2 linked regions of the Homo sapiens genome follow. The protein of the gene in region 2 interacts with the protein of the main gene of each other region in a pairwise test. Each region holds a gene or a part of one and is shown on either strand. Other genes may lie near its edges.

Region 1 (3,828 bases), on a different chromosome or scaffold from region 2:
AGATGATAGAGAGAATCATGAAGGCCTGCACTGTCTTGAGGGCATCTGTAGACACAGGACGAGGAGAACAAGGGCATGAGGTCACTCCAGGGGCTGAACATTCCCTGACCACACCTATTGTCAGCACTGGGTCAATATCTTTATATATACCTTCACTGGCATATGACAGGCTGTCACTGCAGCTAATGTTGGTACAGTTTTTCCAAAGACCTACTGATGCATCTACCGTATTGGAAACCAACCAGACCTGAAACCAGAAGGAAAGAAAATGTTAATTGAAAGCTGGCCCTCTGATTTAAAAATAAAATAACAAATCAGCTTGCATCGGGATCAGATTTTAATAAAGACATTCTATTTAGCTATAACTATGGCTATGCAGCTTATCTGTGGGCGGAAATAAGGTCCGATTAAAACTGAAGTTCACAAAGTTGCCAAGAGAAGAGACACAGAAGAATGTGAAACCCAGAAAGAAATCACCTAGCCCTCTTTGGGCTCCACATTCTTCACGACTTAACAAAAATGGAAGTAACTCAACCACAGTGGTTTAAAATTCTAAGGTTCTGAGAAACAGAAGTCCAGGATGAGGAAACTGGCTTAGGTATGTGCAGTTCATATACTCTAACAAGATTGTTTCATTTAAGTCCCTGGTTAACCAGGAAAAAAGTGAAATGTCCAACTGGAAACAATTAAGAAACATAAGACCTACTGGGAAAATAACAATGAATCTAGTGGTTAATAAGCCACTTTCATCTAAACAGAAGGATCAAACTTGACTGTCACAACATGCAAAGTAATTTGATAGTAAAATACTACAGCAAGTGCTTTCCTGTAGGGGCTACTAAAAGCTGAAGGGTGACCTGAATGGATTCCCCCAGACTGATCATGGTGCCGCCATCCCTTCCTGCCTGGCCCAAGAAAAGGAATTATCCTTCTGGAAGAGAAAACAAGTGCAGTGTCCTGTCTACACACACACAAATGCACACACTGGAAAGGTGGGGCCGGGAACATGCATCACCTACGCCAATCCCTGCTCTTCATTCAATAAACAACTGTGTGCCTAGCCTTATATTAGGGGCTGGTAATTCACAGATACGCAGCGCTTTGGCGCTCATTAATACACTTTGAAGAAGCTTATCAGATTTATCTGGATAGATATAGGAGTTGACATATAGAATGGCTAAATTACAAAACAAGGAGGTCACGTGGGCGGGGGTTGTCTTATCACAGTTATTCTTAATTAGCCTTGCTTATGATCACACCCACTAATGTTTGCAAAGCTCTTCTATCTGAACTTTAAAACTCACTTATACTTTAACTGTGATAGGGACCTAAACAGATTCTGAAACCATGGTTTGCCTGCCTAGTGATTGGTGGCCTTGGTTTTTAGGTCCAAGGAGCTGGCTTTTTTCTGAGAAAAGCACAAGTAAAAGCAAATTGGGCGCTGTAAGCCACCACTAGAGGTCAGAGTAGCCCAGGGTTCAGAGAGAAAAGACACTACCTCCATTTTTTTTTTCTCGTTTTGTCTGAGTTAGTTAATTCAGTGGCACTGGGTTAATCTTGCAAAACTCCACTTTCACATGCTACTCTTTGCTCAAAATTTGAATTTGTCAGTCTGGCATCCTCTTCTTCCCATCTATCCTTCTAATCAAGCTTCTCAGAAGGAGGGGAAGTTCGGCTCCAGCCACATAGGTGTGTGTCCTCCTTATCCTCTGACCAAAGCTTGTCCTTCCTACATATGCTCCTTTGCTAGCACTCCCACCTGAATGCATCCCTATGATCCTTCCACCTTCCCTCTTTCACTAAGAGAAACCTCAGCCATCTACCACTCCTCCAGGTTCACCTCAAGCTCCACTCACCCCTGCTGCTGGGAAGGCTCTTCTAGAGACCGAAGAAGCTGCACTAGATCCTCCAGCCCTTAACCACCTACAGCTCTGGCAGGATTACTCCTGTGGACATTCACTTTTATCCTCCTGTTATTTAATTGTTTGAAGGGCAAGCGTGTGTTTATTTTGTTTTCCCACAACTGAGCTGTAAGTTCATGAAGGGCAAGGGCTGTGGCTTAAACTTCTTTTGTGCACTTGATGTAAATATTCGAATGATTTCTCAATGAATGAATGAACAAAAGAACATTACTCACATTGGCAATGGTGCTAACAAATAGCATAATAACAGTAGCGATGTGGACCACAAAGATACCAGCCAGCAATACCAACATGTTGGCTCTTTTTTTTTTGGTAACTTGTGAGCAAAGAGAGTTCTGAAAAGAAAAAGAAAGGGACAAAAACGGTTACTGTCAGATTCAATAAGACGACTCAGCTTTCCCACACGTGTGGGCTATCTGCTAACATGAGGAAGAGCTGCACTAAAAACCATCACAATCTAATCATAAATTCCTGAAAACACCCCTGTAACCTAGTTCTGATTTGCCTAAGTGCCTATTCATCCAGTTATACATACCTACATGGAAACAGAATTTGGTTTCTTCTTGGGTATTTACATATTCATTTCTCTAATACATTCTATTTCAAAAAAGGAACAAGAACATTTTATGATAACTGTTCGTATTTTATTTTGTTTGTGTTTTAGAGGTTAAAAATAGGACTTTGATTTTCAAAGAAGTAGGCCTTTATAATTTCCAGGTCTCTGAACAATGTCATATAAATGTCCATTTTCCACTAGGAAAATGTCCATGCTTTCATCAAATTGCTCACCCAGCACTTTTAATAGAAGTAAATGCCTTCTGAAGAATAGCAGCTATTACTCAATGCCCATATACTGAATAGGCTACTAATATGATCCTGGGCGAGATATAAAATGTGAGAGGCACAATTCTATTATTATAATGCTGTTTGGTTTTCAATAATTATAACAACCTAATTACAGTTTAATGGTCTGGTCACCCTGTGACTGAGCATTTCAGACTAGTATTACTACACCTGAGCCTTTGGGCTCTGTGTGCCTCATGGCAGGAAGCCTGCCATTGGTCTGGGCAGAGAGTCATATTTTCCACAGCTCAATGTGATGGTTCTGGGGGCTTTAAAAGTAATGCAACTTGAGATAGCACCAAATGTGCCTTCTCCTTGTACATGACATTTACACAAATTCCAATCCTTCAGGACTCAATACAGAAGACAGGCAAATGCATAAATCACAGGGTGGGAGGATTGGGAACTAATATCGATTAAGAATGTGCATGGATAAACAAAAGCTTTCAGCCATAATCACAGCAGAGAAGGGAGCCCATTGATCATAAAGCCTAGGAAATAAAGGAAGTGTGAAGGATACACATGGGGGAGGCTATTCTGATTTATGTCAGCTACAGAAGGAGAGCTTTGTCATGCCTAAGACTGTCACAAAGCAGTGCAGGCTCAGAGGGACATCAAAAGGAAAGGGCTTGAGGTTATTCACACCCTAGACAGAATGGATGTGTGGATGCCCCAACCAAGGGAGGAGATGGCCAGGCGCATCCTGCAATTGTTCCACTGCCCTCTCTCACTCCACCTAATTTAATTGATGCTTTGAATGTGCTTGAGGCACTTTCATGCCACATCAGGTATTTATTAGAGAGCACTGATACTATAATTCCAACACTTCACATGCCTTTTATCTCCTCTCACTGTCTTTATCAGGCAACCAAAAATCTAGAGTGATCTAATATACATCAGGGTGCCTTGCTCTCTGCAAGCAAGGAATGAGAGGCAGACAATGGCTTCCACCATTCTCCCTGACCGTCTCCAACAGCCCCTTCCCAATCTGGCCACTTCCTTCCAACCCAGGCTGTTTTTTAGGAATGTGTCCAACTTAACTGTGAATGCAAAAATTATGACG
Region 2 (2,691 bases):
GCTTTGAATCCAGGCTGATACCAAAAGCTTGGCGTTTTCACTGCACTTTGCAGTTCTCACCATGAGTGGTTACTGTAGTCAATCAAGTGCCTGCCCTATTTGTGTGTGCACATGGACACACTCACCTAGGGGTCTTTTTTCCTCTTCAGAGCCATCACCATTTCTTTTAGAGTCACCGACCTCTGGCCATCCAGCTACACATGGACAGGGTTAGAAAAACTCAAGGCTTGAGAGTCGCTCTCCATTTGCTCCTTTAAGGATTCAAAAAGTCTTTTAATGAAGTGTATCCACTTGCTAGAAAATTGAACTTGGTACAAGTTGTGGAACATGTTTAGTTGCATAAAAGTTCAGTAAAAGCTAAACCTCGGGGAACGTGTGTGCTCTTCAAACATTAACTCTTGCCGTCCCTCTTTCTTCTCAGGTGCTGCTACCCCCGTATGATGATGCCACTGTGAATGGTGCTGCCAAGGAGCCACCGCCACCTTACGTGTCTGCCTAAGCCTTCAAGTGGGCGGAGCTGAGGGCAGCAGCTTGACTTTGCAGACATCTGAGCAATAGTTCTGTTATTTCACTTTTGCCATGAGCCTCTCTGAGCTTGTTTGTTGCTGAAATGCTACTTTTTAAAATTTAGATGTTAGATTGAAAACTGTAGTTTTCAACATATGCTTTGCTGGAACACTGTGATAGATTAACTGTAGAATTCTTCCTGTACGATTGGGGATATAATGGGCTTCACTAACCTTCCCTAGGCATTGAAACTTCCCCCAAATCTGATGGACCTAGAAGTCTGCTTTTGTACCTGCTGGGCCCCAAAGTTGGGCATTTTTCTCTCTGTTCCCTCTCTTTTGAAAATGTAAAATAAAACCAAAAATAGACAACTTTTTCTTCAGCCATTCCAGCATAGAGAACAAAACCTTATGGAAACAGGAATGTCAATTGTGTAATCATTGTTCTAATTAGGTAAATAGAAGTCCTTATGTATGTGTTACAAGAATTTCCCCCACAACATCCTTTATGACTGAAGTTCAATGACAGTTTGTGTTTGGTGGTAAAGGATTTTCTCCATGGCCTGAATTAAGACCATTAGAAAGCACCAGGCCGTGGGAGCAGTGACCATCTGCTGACTGTTCTTGTGGATCTTGTGTCCAGGGACATGGGGTGACATGCCTCGTATGTGTTAGAGGGTGGAATGGATGTGTTTGGCGCTGCATGGGATCTGGTGCCCCTCTTCTCCTGGATTCACATCCCCACCCAGGGCCCGCTTTTACTAAGTGTTCTGCCCTAGATTGGTTCAAGGAGGTCATCCAACTGACTTTATCAAGTGGAATTGGGATATATTTGATATACTTCTGCCTAACAACATGGAAAAGGGTTTTCTTTTCCCTGCAAGCTACATCCTACTGCTTTGAACTTCCAAGTATGTCTAGTCACCTTTTAAAATGTAAACATTTTCAGAAAAATGAGGATTGCCTTCCTTGTATGCGCTTTTTACCTTGACTACCTGAATTGCAAGGGATTTTTATATATTCATATGTTACAAAGTCAGCAACTCTCCTGTTGGTTCATTATTGAATGTGCTGTAAATTAAGTTGTTTGCAATTAAAACAAGGTTTGCCCACATCCAAGATGACCTTGTGATTTTGTGCTGATTGTGTCTGAGGACCTTTCCCTCCACATATGGTCTGGCAGATGCACCCAGTTCAGCCTAAGGAGTAGGCTTTTTTTTGGGGGGGGGAGGTCGGGTGGGGGGGATTTTTAATCTTTTAATTTTCAAGATGGTTAAAATATTGAAATGTTTAAGTGGATAACTATATTATTCATAAAATGACTGAGTGAAAACTAATACACTATGAGATGAAAAGTACTTGTCAGGGATTTTCAAGCTTTTGCTCAAGTAATTACTATGAAATAACAATTTCTAGAAATGAAGAACAATCCGTGGAGAATAAATTACCATTGGTGTGGGGGAAAAAAGCCAAACAGAAGTAGAAAAAGGTGTAGCCGGCATACAAATGTTATCTACAGTGTATTTTTAGATTTTTTATACTTGACCAGGTCTCTTATGTCCTTTTTCTGGAAAACTGTTTTTAACTACTAAAGTGATTATAAATGAAAAAGTGGCCAGTAAAGTGACTACTATCTTCAGGGCTTTAAACCAGTTGGGATAATGTGGTAAGAGAAAAAGTTGAAGGTGTAATGCTACCCGCATACCCATTATTACTGTGACTATGGCTTCACTAAGTCTTTCAGAAATAAGAAGGCAAACCATGAAAAGAAAAGAGGAGCTGTACTGCTAGCTAAATTAAGGTAGTCTGGTTTGGCTGGACTACCTTCTGGTAGAGCAAAACCGCATCTGATCCCACCCAAGAAAGATGGAAACTGGCTCCATAAGCCATCTGAGTAAAAGCTAATATGGGAATATAAGTTTTTGTCATCAGCATGACCAGTGGTGGGGCAACGAAGGGGATTAGTCCTGCCAGAGTTACATATAATGCTGGCTTTGGGCTGTCAGTTAGGTAAGTGATGGTGCTTGGTGGCCTGGCTGGAAGTGCTTGCTTCTGCTTCTTTTTAAAGCTGCAGGGGGATGTATGATAGCACTGTGTCTTGCTCATATGCACTGGAAATGATGAGGAAAGCCAAGGCCTTGGAAATGGGGAAAAGTTCTGGAGAGACATCTTGAGAGAAAGTATA

What was found.
Region 1: the proteins of LAPTM4B (region 2) and EMP1 interact in binary tests that used the Homo sapiens proteins (3 or more experiments, as listed by UniProt).

The regions. Positions count from the first base shown.
Region 1 is NC_000012.12:13,209,898-13,213,725, reverse strand, and holds part of EMP1 (epithelial membrane protein 1), read right to left. Parts: intron 2,258-3,828; 5' UTR 2,216-2,257; coding exon 2,138-2,215; intron 248-2,137; coding exon 151-247; intron 46-150; coding exon 1-45.
Region 2 is NC_000008.11:97,850,976-97,853,666, forward strand, and holds the end of LAPTM4B (lysosomal-associated transmembrane protein 4B), read left to right. Parts: intron 1-421; coding exon 422-499; 3' UTR 500-2,038; downstream 2,039-2,691. UniProt on the Homo sapiens protein: Required for optimal lysosomal function. Blocks EGF-stimulated EGFR intraluminal sorting and degradation.